Regions from separate parts of the Homo sapiens genome. Here region 1 is linked to region 2. A link means that fine-mapping ties the variant in region 2 to the expression of a gene that starts in the linked region. Tissue or cell type: skeletal muscle. Region 2 holds a variant in brackets; the other region holds the start of a gene. All regions are shown on one strand. Distances are from middle to middle.

Region 1 (8,000 bases), 220 kb after region 2:
TGGGGTTCATCACCAAATACATGAGGCTCCAGGAGATAGCAGTTGTGACTGTGTCAAACCCTGGACAGGGTAGAACAGAAGAAGTTAGGCAGGCAGCAGCAGGTCAGGGCACTTGAGCACAGGAAGGACACAATGGGGTAACCATACCAGCTCCAAAGAGGTCCAAGACGATGTTAATGATCTTCTCATCTGACAGCTGGACATTGGCGTTCTCATCCAGCTGCTTCTCCTGACAGTGCTCAATCAGGCTGTCTGTGATGTCCCGGATGTGGCCCTTAGGTAGGGAAAGTCCACAGGTGAGCAAGATCTCAAACCCAGAGCTACCTCTCCATCCAGGTCTGGTCCTTCACTATTCCTAGCACATTTGTTCTGGAGGTGATGCCCCCTGAGGCTGTTGTCCCAGCTTCTCTCTGCCTCTGCAAGGCTCTCTCCTACTACCTTAGAATGCTGCTAGCCCCAACTCATGGGACATTTGACACACAGCGTCTTGTACTGTTATCATCTGGATGTGCTCTTTATCTTCTTTCTATTATGAGGCCAGGAGATGAACTCTTTAACTCTTCCTGGCTCCCTCAGCAACTGCCCCAGGGTCCTGCATGTAATGACTCTTCAGTGGCTATTGCTGTCTGTGGAAGCATGGAAGGGTTAGTCAAGATAAAGTTCTATTTCCCTGCCAAGGAAGAAGACTATTCCACAACTGGCTTCAAGATCCCAGGTTGAAGCCTTCCTGAGAACTTGCCAAGCCCCATGCAGTTCCTCTTACCTTTGACCTCCCAGGCCCTGATGCCATCTGCTTCCCACCACCCACCTGCCTTTCCCCAGACTGTACCTTCTCAAAGGTTTTGTAGTGCTCCTTGACCATCTTCTGCATGAAGCTGTAGAACTTCTCATTCAGGTCCTTGAAGGCATTCAGGGAAGGGTTGGGTAGGTAGCGAAGAATAGGGATGAAGTCAGCTGGGTTTCCAGAGCCAACCACCTCCCCGAAATTATTATTCAGGTTGACTAGGCTAAGCAGTTCTTGGTGGTTGTGGTCATAGCGCCGGCCAAAGCAAATGGCACAGATGACATTGGTCACTGATACCACCACATACCTGTAGGGGTTAAAGTGCCCAGGCCCTGCCATCAGCTCCTGCAACGTGCTTATCAGGACCTCAGCCTCCTTGCTCACATGCTCTTCCAGGTAGCAGGAGGTTGAGGAGGCTGGGTCAGAGGCAATGGAGAAACTTTTCAGGCCATTCTGGGCCAGGCGCCGGCGGGCAGCCCACACTGGTCCAGAGTCTGGGCTGAAGGACATGCTCTGACCATTACTGATGAGGGTGAAGGTGTAGAGGTCGGGCCGGCCCTTGAAATCATCGCCCTGCCGCACCAGGGCCTGCCGGATGGTGTCCAGGCCGCTCAGCACCACCACGGGTGTGGAGCCAATTCGGATCTGCAGCACGTCCCCATACTGCTGGCTCATCCTTGACAGTGCCAGGTGCGGGTTCTTTCCCAGGGTCAGCATGTGCCCAATCAGAGGCCAGCCCCATGGCCCTGGTGGATTCTTCAGGCCTTTGGGGACCTGAGGTCTTGAGGCCCTGATTACCCAGAATACCAGACAGAAGATGACAGAGGCCAGAAGAAACTCCGTGGCCGACATGGAGATTGGGAAAAGCATGATCAGTGTAGGGATCTTGGAGGTGGCTGCTGAGAGAAGGTGCAGGAAGAAAAAAAGTCAAGCCGTCAGATTGGGGGATGAGAAAAGCCAATATCTAGAGTGTCAGGGAAAGGGGAAACCTTTCCACCAGAACTGCTTACTGGGCATGAAGAAGAGGGTGAGGTGGGGAGAAGTTGTTGAACTACCACTGTGGGCTAAGAATTTCACAGTCCTTCTTCATTCAGCCCTGGCCACAAATCTATGAAGTAGCCTGCAATGAGGCTCAGAGAAGGTAAGTAACTTGCCCAAGGTCACACAGCCAGAAAGTGTTGGATGCAGACTCCCAAGCCAAGTTGCCTAATTCCAGAACGCTTTCTCTTAACTGCTGTACCAATCTAAACTGACATCTTCCAATGTCAATCTGTGATTTCCACATAGTACCAGTACTGTTATTTACTTCACATTTTCCTAAAATCAACTTTAAATCTACCTACATATCATCATAAACAATATCTATGTGAAAGTACAAGTTTGATTTTTCCCCTAACACATTAAAATAAACACATAATCAAGGTGTATCACCCCGAGTCCTACCCACCACACTTAGGAAAATCATGTTCTCAGGGGAATTAGGGATCATCTGATCCTTTAGCCTCATTTAACATTTGGGGGAAGCAGCGCTGACTTGTCCAAAGTCCCCCAGCAATCAGTGACAGAGCCAGGACTCAGACTCCTTAGGGACACTTCCCTGGAAATTTCCAGCTGCTGTCACATGTACCTCCTTTTGAAGAGTGGTCAGATCAATGAAGGAATTTTCCCAGAACCCTCAGTTCTCTGCTGCTCAATCCCAGGATGCAGGAAATCCCACCAGACCCCAGGACAGACTGAGGAAGAGATAGGGGACAGGATGGCCACTTCCCAAACCACATTGCTTTCAGCCCCAGCTCTCTGAGTTCAACTGATCCACAGTTTAAAGGCAGCTGGAGACCAGCTAGATTGAGCTCTTTAGTCAGAGAAATCCAGGCCAGGGTTTTTTTTTGGCTCAATTCTCAATGAATGAACAGTTTGGACCTCCCCCTTTTGCAGGTTACCAGAGAGCAGAGAATAAATGGAAGGTTCCCACTAGGCTGTAAGAAAACCCCAGACTGGAATCAGGGAAATCAGGAATGGATCTAAACTGAAAGGAAACTGAGGCAATACTTTCTCTGTAAGCTTGACCTAAAAAGGGTGTTTAAATTCATAAACCACTCTCTCCAACATATCAGGCATCTCTGCCTGTTACCCTGGACTAGAGGTCAGTAGACCCAACATTCTAGTCAAAGTGATCTTGGACTGCACATTTTACTTTTCTGGGGTCCAATTTCAACATCTGAGAGAGGGTAAGACAAGATCTCTCAGTTCAGAGTACCCAGCTGGATCCAGAGGGAAGAGAAAACCCAGATCTGCTGTGGGGAACCTGACAGTCTTACCAGTTAGGCTCCCCACAGGAGAACCTCACAAGACAGGGAGATGGATGGTTCCTACCACAAGTATTATAGTGGAGGGAGGCTTCCTGGAGGGGCTAAATATCAAAGCACACTAGATCCCTGAGTCAACAGGGGACAGTGCCAGGCTTTGGTGTGCTATGGTGTCCCCTTCTGCACAGTGGGTATCCCAAGGACCTGCAGCCTTTGTAAGATGGTAGGAGGCCAAGGGAGATGTGACTGGTGAGTTTTTAGGGACTGGTATTTCCAGCTCCCTGCAGTTGGCAATCTGTCACCCTGATTGTCTCCCAGCAAAGGACAAAGAAGATGGTCAATGAGATAGGAAAGGCCTGGGACTCCTGCACAGATCTGCCTCTATTGTCCCAGCTGTCTAGGACATCTCAGCACTGACAAGCCACCCTTAGGAGGGTAAAATCTGCCAGGGGTAGCTTCTTAGGCTAGGGCAGGGTACAGCTGGTAAGAACCCAGCCCACCCCCTCCATCCACCCTGTCCACCCAAGGAGAAGCCCCTGTCATCAGAAAGCCTGAGGGAGGGGCTGCACATATTCCAGCCTGCCAGGTGGCCTTGATGGGGAAGCCCCAGGGTAGGCAGGGAGACACTCACTAGGGGATGGAGCTGGAGCCTGGGTCCTGAAGTCCTGAATGAGATGCCATCTGTATCTAGAGGTCTGGTACCAGCTGTGGGACCATGGGCAAGTCCTCCTCTTCCCCTGGCCTCAGTTTCCCCACTAGGGGGCTAGACTGCCTGGTCACTAAAAACACTCTGAGCCTCCCTTTTTGGAGGTGCTAGACAGGTAGCTACCTAAGAAGTCCTGGAGGCACCAAAATGTTCCTTTTATTGGGAGAGAAAGGGCAAGCCAGAAGTCCCCCAGCAACTCACCTGAGGTACTGAGCTGAGCTGGGAAGGGTGGACTCTTGGAGCCTGGGATCACAAGGATCAGGGAAGGTTCCAAGGAACTGTCACCTTCAGGGTGAGGGTGAAGGCACTGCCACCTTTATAGGCGGGCTTGTACGTGTGGCCACGCCTCCTTCCCTGGAGCGAGCTGAGATGGAGGGAGAAGCAGCCTGAACCGGGCTGGTCTCTCTGGGATTGGAGAGAAAGGTGGCGGAGGGCGGCGGGGGTGGGGGGTCGGGTGGGCAAGAACCCACTATGGGACACATCTCGGTGCCTGTACATAGAGGGGTGAGGGCTGGGAACACCTGGAAGTCCCAATTCCAAGGCGTCCCAAGGGCAGTGCAGAACCCAGCCGAGGAGGGGGCTTGAGGGAGAAGTCCCAGGACAGCCCGAAGAGAGGGTACGGGAAGCTCCATCCTGGGGCGCGGGGACTCCTCTTCGTCATTTTTGCACCCACTGGAACGCTGGGCGTGCAGATGCCTCCCCAGCGCTACAGCCTACCAGGACTCGGCAGGCGGGGGCGGGGCTGCCCCGTGGTGACCTCCTTCCCGGGGTTACTGAGTCCCGGCTCGCGTGAGAAGCGCTGCGACCCCAGCCCTGAGGTCACGGGGGCCGGAAGGCCAGAGGCGCCGCGGGGCTGGACCTGTCCCCCAGAGCCCGGGCGACTAGCTGAGGTTCGCGCCTCTTGATTGAAGGATCGGAATGGATGGCGAAGGGGCAGGCTCGCTGAGCGCTCACTAGCGGCTCCTCGCAGCCTCTAGGATCGCCTTAGTGCTGATTGCAACGCGCGGTCCCTCCAGCCAGGACCCACCGGCCCTTGAGGGTCCCTCTTGGCTCCCGGGGTGGCTAGTGCTTTGATTGGCAGAGCACAGAAATCCGGCGGCGGGGGGCCACGGAAAGACTCGGGCCCAGGGACCACGGAGGGGGCACCTGGCGCGGAGCCCCCACCCTACCCCCGGCTAGCTTGCGTGCGCCGGCGACATCCCTCTAGGGGGCAGAGGTCAGGCGGCCCGTCCCCGCCCCACCTGGCCCGGAGGCGCGGTGCCCAGGCGTTGCGTGAGAAGGACCGGAGGCCCGCGCAGCCACCCAGCCGACCCATTCCCCGGCCCGGCGCGGGGGCTCGCAGTCACGCGAGGGGGGAGGGAGTCGGGGCGGGGCTCTTAAAGGGCCAGCCTCGCGCGCGGCGTGGGGTTGGGGTGGAGGGAGAGGAACTGTCGAAGGGTGGCGGGTGCGCGATTGAATAAGGGGATGCGGTGCAAAGGGTCTAGGTCTGCGTGTGGCTTCTGCCTGCGAGGAGAGGCAGCCTGCATGTGTCCGCATTTTCGGTCCACGCCTGTGGCACGACACGAAGCCCCAGTGCCATTTGGCATGGCCTAGCTGCCTGCCTCCGACGCTGTCCCGCCCTCCGGAACCTTCCTGTTACAGGGTTTCCAGGAAAAAAAAAGTTGTATTTGCGTGCCTAGCTCAACCTGGCCCCAGCTAACATCGTTACGCGCCATCCCCGACGTGCTCCCCAACCCGGTGGCACCACCATCCGTCGCTGGTCCAGGCCAGAAAATAATCCCCTCACCTCCCATTCCGGTCATATGCGGCCTCGTGCATTGCACAAATATTTACCAAGCAACTACTATGTGCCAGGAGCTGTTCGGAGGCGCTGGCGATTGACAGAGAAGGGAACACAGCTGACAGCACTCCTAATCTCGTGGAGTTTACATTCTGATGGAAGGAGACAAGTAATATGCCCCAAATCTAGAGAATGTGAGAGGGTAAAAAGTGCGGTTGAAAAAAATTAAACAGAAAAGGCGTACGGATTATGTGAGGGCAGATTGCAATTCAAAACAAGGGGGTCAGGGAAGGCCTTGCGGAGAGAGGCAGGAGTGTGGAGTCAAGAATCAATGTGCATAGATATCTGGATAAAAAGTGTACCTGGGCAGGTGCGGTGGCTCACGCCTGTAATCCCAGGACTTTGGAAGGCCGAGTCGGGAGGATCGCCTGAGGTCAGGAGTTCAAGACCAGCCTGGCCAATATGGCAAAACCCCATCTCTATCAAAAATACAAAAATTAGCCGGGCATGGTGTTGCTCACCTGTAATCCCAGATACTGGGGCGGTGAGGGGGGTTTGGGGGGAGTGGAGTCAGGCAGGAGAATTGCTTGAACCTGGGAGGCAGATGTTGCAGTGAGCTGAGATCACGCCACTGCACTCCAGCCTGGGTGACAGAGCGAGACTCCATCTCAAATAAAAGACTGCAACTGGCAGAGGGAATAAGCAAAATCAAAGCCTCCCGCCACCCCCCACCACAGTGGTTCTTGAAGGACCGAGCAGTACCAGGGATGTGCAGAGGTCATGTGACTGGGGAGTTCTCCTGGCATGTAGTCCAGGGGGATGGGATGCCCATGAGGCACAGCGCCCTGCCGCATGTGCAGGGAGCACCCCATTGAGAGACATGAGACTTCCTCTGTGCGAGATAGAGACATGGCTGGGGTGTAAGAGAAGCAAGGTCACTCGGGCTACTGTGCTAAGAATAGGAGGCACATTTCTCTGCTTGGCATCTGCTTTGGCATCTGTCCAGCTCCACTGCCACAACTCATCCAGGGCCCATCATTGCTCCCTGGAGCACTTAGCCTCCACCTAGGTTCCCATTTGCCTTTTGCTCCGTCCAATTACTTCTCCATCCTGTGGCACCCAGAGTGGTCCTGTCAAAAATGCAAAATCTCATTCCATCACCACCTTGCTTAAATTTCTTTGGTAGCTCCCACCACTCTGAAGGCAGGAATAAGAATCTTTAGCAGCTCTCCCTCTCCCTCTCCCTCTCCCTCTCCCTCCCTCTCCCTGTCCCCTCTTTCCACGGTCTCCCTCTGATGCCGAGCCAAAGCTGGACTGTACTGCTGCCATCTCGGCTCACTGCAACCTCCCTGCCTGATTCTCCTGCCTCAGCCTGCCGAGTGCCTGCGATTGCAGGCGCGCGCCGCCACGCCTGACTGGTTTTCGTATTTTTTTGGTGGAGACGGGGTTTCGCTGTGTTGGCCGGGCTGGTCTCCAGCTCCTAACAGGGAGTGATCCGCCAGCCTCGGCCTCCCGAGGTGCCGGGATTGCAGACGGATTCTGGTTCACTCAGTGCTCAATGGTGCCCAGGCTGGAGCGCAGTGGCGTGATCTCGGCTCGCTACAACCTCCACCTCCCACCCGCCTGCCTTGGCCTCCCAAAGTGCCGAGATTGCAGCCTCTGCCCGGCCGCCACCCCGTCTGGGAAGTGAGGAGCGTCTCTGCCTGGCCGCCCATCGTCTGGGACGTGAGGAGCCCCTCTGCCTGGCTGCCCAGTCTGGAAAGTGAGGAGCGTCTCTGCCCCACCGCCATCCCATCTAGGAAGTGAGGAGCGTCTCTGCCCGGCAGCCCATCGTCTGAGATGTGGGGAGCGCCTTTGCCCTGCTGCCCCGTCTGGGATGTGAGGAGCGCCTCTACCCAGCCGCGACCCCGTCTGGGAGGTGAGGAGCGTCTCTGCCCGGCCGCCCCGTCTGAGAATCAAGGAGACCCTCCGCCTGGCAACCGCCCCGTCTGAGAAGTGAGGAGCCCCTCCGCCCGGCAGCCACCCCGTCTGGGAAGTGAGGAGCGTCTCCGCCCGGCAGCCACCCCGTCCGGGAGGGAGGTGGGGGTCAGCCCCCGCCAGGCCAGCCGCCCCGTCCGGGAGGGAGGTGGGGGGGTCAGCCCCCCGCCCGGCCAGCCGCCCTGTCCGGGAGGGAGGTGGGGGGGTCAGCCCCCCGCCCGGCCAGCCGCCTCGTCCGGGAGGTGAGGGGCGCCTCTGCCCGGCCGCCCCTACTGGGAAGTGAGGAGCCCCTCTGCCCGGCCACCACCCCATCTGGGAGGTGTACCCAACAGCTCATTGAGAACGGGCCATGATGACAATGGCGGTTTTGTGGAATAGAAAGAGGGGAAAAGCGGGGAAAAGATTGAGAAATCGGATGGTTGCCGTGTCTGTGTAGAAAGAGGTAGA
Region 2 (8,260 bases):
TCCCACTGCTCCCTGCCCTGCACTTCATCCTTCCACTAACCAAGCAGCTGTCACACAGCATGGCATTGCTAACCACCCTGCCTTTGCACCGGCAGTGTGGAAATAACAGTGTGTCGGACACTGTGGCCCACGCTTCTTCTCCCCTTTCCCACCAGAGCCCTGACTTTGCATAGGTGTCCACTCTCCCCCACATAGCCCTGTGCTTCAGGGCAAGATGCCCCCACCTCAGCCACAGGAAGGGCATCCTGATGGCCTAATCCAATTGTGGTTCCACATTCCTCCTGCCATGGACATAGGACTCAATTCTAGCTAATGAGATGCAAGAGGCTCCTGGGAAAGTCATCCTTGTTCCTGCCAAAGAGAACAGGAAGAGTTAGATCATTACTCATGTTGGATGTTGTTAGGCTGGATGATAAATCCCATACACTGAGGACAGCACTGAGACTTGTCTGATAGAAGCTGGGCCTTTGGTGACATGGAGTGCCAGTGATCATACTCTGCCTAAAGAACAACCTTCTGGCTGGGCATGGTGGCTCACATTGTAATCCTAGCACTGTGGGAGGCCAGGGCAGGAGGATCACTTGAGCCCAGGAGGTGGAGACTGCAGTGAGCCATGTTCGTGCCACCACACTACAGCCTGGGCAACAGAGCAAGACCCTGTCCCGAAATAATAAAATAATAATTTTTAAAAACACAAAAATTAGTCGGGTATGGTGGTGCATATTTCCCAACTACTTGGGAGGCTGAGGCAGTAGAATCACTTGAACCCAGGAGATGGAGGTTGCAGTGAGCAGAGATCGGACCACTGCACTTCAGCCTGGGTGACAGAGCAACACTCCATTTCAAAAATAATAATAATACTTTAAAGGCCAGGAGCAGTGGCTCATGCCTGTAATCCCAGCACTTTGGGAGGCTGAGGTGGGCGGATCACTTAAGGTCAGGAGTTTGAGACCAGCCTAGCCAACATGGTGAAACCTTGTCTCCACTAAAACTACAAAAATTAGCTGGGAGTGGTGGTGCGTGCTTGTAATCCCAGCTACTAAGGAGGCTGAGGCATGTGAATCGCTTGAACCCAGGAGGCGGAGGTTGCAGTGAGCCGAGATCGTACCACTGTACTCCAGCCTGGGCAAATGAGCGAGACTCCATCTCAAAAAAAGATAAATATAAATAAATAAATAAATAAATAAATAAAAGTGTAATCTGAAGCTCAGCATGGCATGGTGGTTCACACCTGTGATCTCAGCACTTTGGGAGGCCAAGGCAGGTGGCTGTCTGAAATAATAATAATAATTTTTAAAAACCAACCTTCTGCTGGTCTATATTTCCTTATGATTGAAGTCAGTTTGAATCATGGTTTCTGTCCCTTTTAACTGAAAGCACCTCACTAGTAGGACCTTAACTGACCTTGGATGAATTACTGAATGTGGATGTATTTGGTGTGTTATGATGTTTAGGACCAGCTTCACGGGTGTGCAACCTGTGCTGTCACACCAGGCCCACACTTAGTAGGGCCCCACGCTTGGTTTAATGTTCTGCTTTCATGGTTTTGAAATTCTTTTATATATATATATATTTTTTTTTTTTGTATTATACTTTAAGTTCTAGGGTACATGTGCACAATGTGCAGGTTTGTTACATATGTATATATGTGCCATGTTGGTGTGCTGCACCCATTAGTCATTTACATTAGGTATATCTCTGAAATTCTGAAATTCTTAATAACTTACGAACAAGGAGCCCTGCATTTTCTTTTTTCTTTTTTTTTTTAATTTTTTTTTTTTGAGATGGAGTTTTGCTCTGTCGCCCAGGCTAGAGTGCAATGGCACGATCTTGGCTCACCGCAACCTCTGCCTCCTGAGTTCAAGTGATTCTCCTGCCTCAGACTCCCGAGTAGCTGGGATTACAGGCATGCGCCACCACACCCAGCTAATTTGGTATTTTTTAGTAGAGATGGGGTTTCTCCATGTTGGTCAGGCTGGTCTGGAACTCCCGACCTCAGGTGATCCGCCCGCCTCAGCTTCCCAAAGTGCTGGGATTATAGGCGTGGGCCACCGCGTCTGGCCTGGGCCCTGCATTTTCATTTTGCACTGGGCCCTCCTAATTATGTAATTGGTCCTGGTGATGTGACATTTCTTATCTCCTTGTGTTTCTTTTTCTGCCCTTTCAATCTTTGAATCTGCACAGCTTCATCCACAAGACTCTAATTCACATGCTTCATCTGCCAAATCCACCAGCTTAACTGCAAAATGAGGAGGTTGAACCATTATCTGATCTCTATGGATACCTTTTAGAACTGTTAAGAATTCACCACTGGGCATGGCGGCTCACACCTGTAATCCCAGCATTTTGGGAGGCTGAGGCGGGCAGATTGCTTGAGCTCAGGAGTTCGAGACCAGCCTGGACAACATAGCGAGACCCCATCTCTACGAAAAGTACAAAACTTAGCCAGGTGTGGTGGTGTGTGCCTATAGTTCCAGCTACTTGGGAGGCTGAAGTGGGAGGATGGCTTGAGAGGTTGCAAGGAGCCGAGATCGAGCCACTGCATTCCAGCCTGGGTGACAGACCAAGAGCCTGTCTAAAAAAAAAACCAAAAAACAAACAAACAAAAAAACTTAAACTTTCTTGCAGATGAGCAGTCTGTGTTAAAAAAGAAAAAAAAAAAAGAAGGAAAAAGGATTCAACTTTCTCCCCAGCCATTTTGGTAAGCAATGACTTTTCAGTATTCCAGAAGGCAAAATTCAAGTGCCCTGGCCTGGCATTCAATATCTTGTTCCATATATTGTTCTTGTTACTTTCTGACACCAGCACCCATTACTCCCCAGTAAGAATTACCCACTTTAACTAAAAAGAATGATGATGATAATAATAATAATAGTAACAATAATAGTGAAAACAATGCATTCAAATAATGGTTTATAGACCGTATTCATACATATTTACGTTTGTTCCTCACAATAATTCTGTGAGATATCATGTGAAAAATAATTACTCTGGACCTTAATTCTATTACAAATAGAATTTACTAACAAGCACTATATCTCATGCAAAAGTTCAGAAATTTAATAAGTGTAGTTAATTACTAGTCATTTATGACAACTTTTTTTTTTTTTTTTTTTCTGGAGACAAGAATCTTGCTCTGTTGCCCAGGCTGGAATATAGTGGCAAGAGTGATCCTCCTGGGCTCAAGTGGTCTTCCTGCCTCAGCCTCTCAAGTAGCTGGGACTACAGACATGTGCCACCATGGGTGGCTATTTTTTAAATTTTTGTAGAGACAGAGTCTTACTATGTTGCCCAGGCTGGTCTCAAACTCCCGGGCTCAAGCCATCCTCCCACCTTGGCCTCCCAAAGTACTGGGATTACAAGTGAGCCACTGCACCTAGACTTATTACAACTTTTTATTTGAAATAATTTCAGACTTACAAAATGATTTCAGGAAAGGTCAAAGACATCCCATGTACTTTTTTTTTTTTTTTTTTTTTTTGAGACAGAGTCTTACTCTGTAACCCAGGCTGGAGTGCAGTGGTGCGATCTCGCCTCATTGCATCCTCTGTCTCCCAGGTTCAAGCAATTCTCCTGCCTGAGCCCCCTGAGTAGCTGGGATTACAGGTACCTGCCACCATGCCCAGATAATTTTTGTGTGTTTTTGTTGTTGTTGTTTTGTTTTGTTTTGTTTGAGACAGAGTCTCACTCTGTTGCCCAGGCTAGAGTGCAGTGGTGCAATCTCAGCTCACTGCAATCTCCACCTCCCGACTTCAAGCAATTCTTCTCCCTCAGCCTCCTGAGTAGCTGGGATTACAGGCGTGTGCCACCACACCCTGCTAATTTTTGTATTTTTAGTAGAGACAGCGTTTCACCATACTGGCCAGGCTGGTCTCGAACTCCTGACCTCGTGATCCGCCCGCCTCGGCCTCCCAAAGTGTTGGGATTACAGGTGTGAGCCACAGGGCCCGGCCTGTATTTTTTGTTTTTTTGTTTTTTGTTTTTTGTAGAGACGGGCTTTCACCACGTTGGCCAGGCTGGTATCGAACTCCTGGCCTAAAGCGATCCGCCCGCCTTGGCCTCCCAAACTGCTGGGATTACAGGCGTGAGCCACAGCACCCGGCCCCATATACCCTTTATTCAGATTCTCAAAATGTTAATATTTTACCACATTTGCTTTATCATTTTCTTTTTTTCTTTTTTTTTCCCAAGACGGAGTCTTGCTTTGTCGCCCAGGCTGGCGTGCAGTGGTGCAGTCATGGCTCACTGCAACCTCAGTCTCCCAGGTTCAAGCAATTCTCCTGCCTCAGCCTCCCAAGTAGCTGGGATTACAGGTGTGTGCCACCACACCTGACTAATTTTTGTATTTTTAGTAGAGACAGGGTTTCATCATGTTGGCCAGGCTGGTCTTGAACTTCTGACCTTGTGATCTGCATGCCTCGGCCTCCCAAAGTGCTGGGATTACAGGCATGAGCCACCGCGCCCGGCCCCATATGACGTTTATTAAGATTCTCAAAATGTTAACATTTTACCACATTTGCTTTATCATTTCTCTCTCTCTCTCTCTCTCTCT[C/A]TCTATATATATATATACATATATATATATACACACACACACACACAGGTAATATATATGCATACAGACATATATACACACACAAATATATGTATGATATATGAAATTATTTTTCCAGAACCATTGGAGAATAAATTGCAAACAGGATGAAATTGTATCTCTAAATACTTAAGTATGTGTTTCCTAAAACAAGAATATTGTATTCTCTTGTATAACAGTAGCACAATTATAAAATAAAAATAATAACATTGATATAATAATATTACCTAACCCAGAGACCTTATTCAGATATCCTCCACTGTCTTAATAATGTTTTCCACAGCAAAAAGAAAAATTATTTTTCTAAGGTCAGGCATGGTGACTCATGCCTGTAATCTCAGCACTTTGGGAAGCCGAGGTGGACAGATCATCTGAGGTCAAGAGTTCGAGACCAGCCTGGCCAACATGGTGAAACCCTGGCTCTACTAAAAATACAAAACTTAGCCAGGCGTGGTGGTGCGCACCTGTAGTCCCAGCTACTCAGGAGGCTGAGGCAGGAGAATCACTTGAACCCAGGAGGCGGAGGTTGCAGTGAGCCGAGATAGCATCACTACACTCCAGCCTGGGCGACAGAGCGAGACTCTGTCTCAAAAACAAGAAAGAAAAATTATTTTTCTGGCTCAGGATCCAATCCAGGATCACACACTGCACTTAGTTGAGAAATCTCTTTAGTTTCTTTTAATCTGGAATAATTCCTCAGTCTGACTTTGCCTCCCACGATCCTTTGTCACTTGAAGAATACAGGCCAGATATTTTGTATGAGGTTCTTGTTTTAGGTTTATCTGTTTTTTCCCCTCATGATTAGATTCAGGCTATACATTTTTGGCAGGAATATTCTAAAACTGATGCTGTGTTCTTGGTTTATTAAATCAGGAGGCACATTACTGACTACTGGTGATGTTAATTTTTATTTTTAGGTCAAGGTGGTGTCTGCCAGTTTTCCACTTTAAAGTTATTCTTTGTCGATTTTTAGTTAATAAGTATCTTTTTTTTTTCTTTTTTTAGAGACAGGGTCTCACTCTGTTGCCCAGGCTGAAGTGCAGTGGCGCAATCATAACTCACTGCAGCCTCAAATTTCCGGGCTCCAGTGATCCTCCCACCTCATCCTCCTGAGTAACAAGGACTACAGGCACGCCACCAGGCCTGGCTAATATTTTATTTTTGTAGAGACAGGTCTTGCTATGTTACCCTGGCTGATCTCCAACTCCTGGCCTCAAGTAATCCTCCCAACTTGGCCTCAGCCTCCCAAAACTCTGGGATTATAGGCATGAACCACCATGCCTGGCCAATAAGTATCTTGTGGGGAGATATTTTGAGACTATATCCTGTTCCTCATAAAACTTTTACCCACTAATCTTAGCATCCATTGCAAAAATTACAAAGTCTTTCATTGAAAAAGTATACACAAGCCAATGGTTAAAAAATTCAAAACAATACAGTGAACAAGTATGTATACATACTCACTTTTTGTTGTATAAAAAAAGAGAAATAGAGTGAATAGTATAGTGAAAAGTAAATCTCCTGATATTAGATCCTCAGGACCCTTCCTCCTGTTACTTGTTTGTGTCTTTGTGGTAGACACGATGCCATATGATACTGAACCTCATTTCATTTCCTTTTTTCTGGGCATAAAGGATGACAACATTTCCTGTCCTGCTTTGCGGTGAGGCTGAGACCATGAGACTAGTTCTGGCTCAAGGGCTATGAACAGAAATGATATTGGGCACTCTTGGGCCAAAGCATTTAGTGCCATTTTATGTCTCTCCAGCTCTCTCTTCCCCTGCTGCAGCAATTGTGAAAGCCACGCATTTAGATGGTGAAGCCACAAAATGGAAACAGCCTGGATCCCTGAGTCACCAGATGCAGAAACAGCTGCCCTGAAAAGTTGTCCATCTTGCACTATACATGCCCATGTACGAGAAATACAAGCCTTTTCTGGCCGGGCGCGGTGGCTCACGCCTGTAATCCCAGCACTTTGGGAAGCCGAGGCGGGCAGATCATTTGAGGTCAGGAGTTCGAGATCAGCCTGGCCAACATGGTGAAACCCCGTCTCTACAAAAAATATAAAAATTAGCCAGGCATGGTGGCAGGCGCTTGTAATCCCAGCTACTCAGGTGGCTGAGGTAGGAGAATCGCTTGAACCTGGGAGGCAGTGGTTGCAGTGAGCCGAGATTACACCATTGCACTCCAGCCTGGGTGATAAGAGCAAAACTCTGTCTCAAAAAAAAAAAAAAGGCCTTTTCTGTGGTTAAGAAATGAGAATCAAGTTTAAGATATTTGAGATTTTTCTTTTTATTATTTTTTTCCTTAGAGGTAATTGTGGGGTGGAGGTGGGGGTCTTGCTATCTTGCCCAGGCTGGACTCAAACTCCTGGGTTCAAGCAATCCTCCAGTCTCAGCCTCCCAAGTAGCTGGGACTATAGGTACACACTACCACACCAGTTTCTTTGAGATTTTTGTACATCGGGATATATAGCTCATTCTTTTTAAGATTTGCCAAGTGTTCCATTGTATGACTATAATATATTTAGGAGGTACATTTCTTTAATTTAAATTTTTGAATTGATATTATATACCATATGGTTTTAAATTAAAATGGTTCAAAAAAGTATATATGTGAAAAATTCTCACTCTCATTGCTGCCCTGAGCCAATAAATTCCCCACCAAAGGTAACCAATATTTCCTGTTCCTTATGTGTACTTCCAGAGTTATGTCATACATAGGATATTTAAAGGAACCTCACTCGTCTCAAGTTTGGCCGAGACACCAAAACAATAAGGTCACACTTCAAAGTTACGGGCAAGTCCACCAATACAGGATTTGCAAAAGAAGATTATAGAAAACCAATTTTCATGCCGGGCGCGCTGGCTGACGCCTGTAATCCCAGCACTTTGGGAGGCCGAGGCAGGTGGATCACGAGGTCAGGAGATCGAGACCATCCTGGCCAACATGGTAAAACTCCATCTCTACTAAAAATACAAAAATGAGCTGGATGTGGTGGTACGTGCTTGTAATTCCAGGTACTTGGGAGGCTGAGGTAGGAGAATCACTTGAACCCAGGAGGCAGAGATTGCAGTGAGCCAAGATAGTGTCACTGCACTCCAACCTGGCGACAGAGCAAGACTCCATCTCAAAAAAAAAAAAAAAAAAGAAAAGAAAACCAGTTTTCAATCTTCATTCACTACCCATCCGCAGCCTGCAAAAGATGTTGAAGAGATTGAAAAAAAAAAAGACTCAAGGTTTTAGAAAAAGCTATTGCTGAACTGAGTCACTGAGTCATTGCCTCCAACCTCATCCTAAGGGGTACATGCCCCTCACCTCACACTAATAAAACGAATTTTACTGGGATCACATAGTAGAATATGTGTTTCTTCGTCTTTGAGAGGCACAGTGGGCTGAAGTCTGAGTTGTCTGGGATGTGTAAAGGGTTAAGGGTTAATGCAGGCATCCTGTGGGGTAGAGAAGAGGTTGCGATTTGGGATATAGCAGCACTTGCAACAATGGGTCAAATGAACATATTTTCTCTAATCTAAGTATGATACAAACATGCAAGAGCTCTGGAGAAGCATTGCCTTGGATCCTGTTCAAGAAAGCTGCCTGGAAAGTAAGTGGACTTCAGCAGAAGGAAGGTGGAGGCGTAGCACCAGATGCCTAGAGTCTCGAGAAAGA

Which allele goes with the higher level. Alleles are on the strand shown, and positions count from the first base shown. SD is a standard deviation of normalised expression in the study named.
In carriers of allele C in region 2, the expression in skeletal muscle of the gene that starts at base 4,085 in region 1 tends to be higher than with A alone (moderate effect, 0.58 SD a copy in FUSION).

What was found. PIP is the estimated chance that this variant, and not a neighbour inherited with it, causes the effect.
Region 1: it holds the start of CYP1A1, and the variant in region 2 is fine-mapped to the expression of CYP1A1 in skeletal muscle (FUSION, PIP 0.95).

What each region holds. Positions count from the first base shown.
Region 1 is chr15:74,721,444-74,729,443 of GRCh38, forward strand. It overlaps CYP1A1 (cytochrome P450 family 1 subfamily A member 1), which reads right to left and starts at 4,085. Exons shown (of 7, transcript NM_001319217.2): 1 at 3,998-4,085; 2 at 830-1,683; 3 at 148-274; 4 at 1-60. The coding sequence starts at 1,654. RefSeq lists a promoter at 3,793-5,697, a cis regulatory region at 4,548-5,922, enhancers at 4,574-4,597, 4,630-5,829, 4,968-4,990, 5,065-5,079, 5,128-5,151 and 1 more and silencers at 4,642-4,922, 4,642-4,817, 4,662-4,741, 4,813-4,922, 4,922-5,081.
Region 2 is chr15:74,506,033-74,514,292 of GRCh38, forward strand. No RefSeq gene overlaps it. Among named protein-coding and RNA genes, the nearest start is that of ARID3B, 31 kb to the right of the region's middle. RefSeq lists enhancers at 6,127-6,176, 6,487-6,546. The variant C/A (reference allele first, on the strand shown) is at 4,553.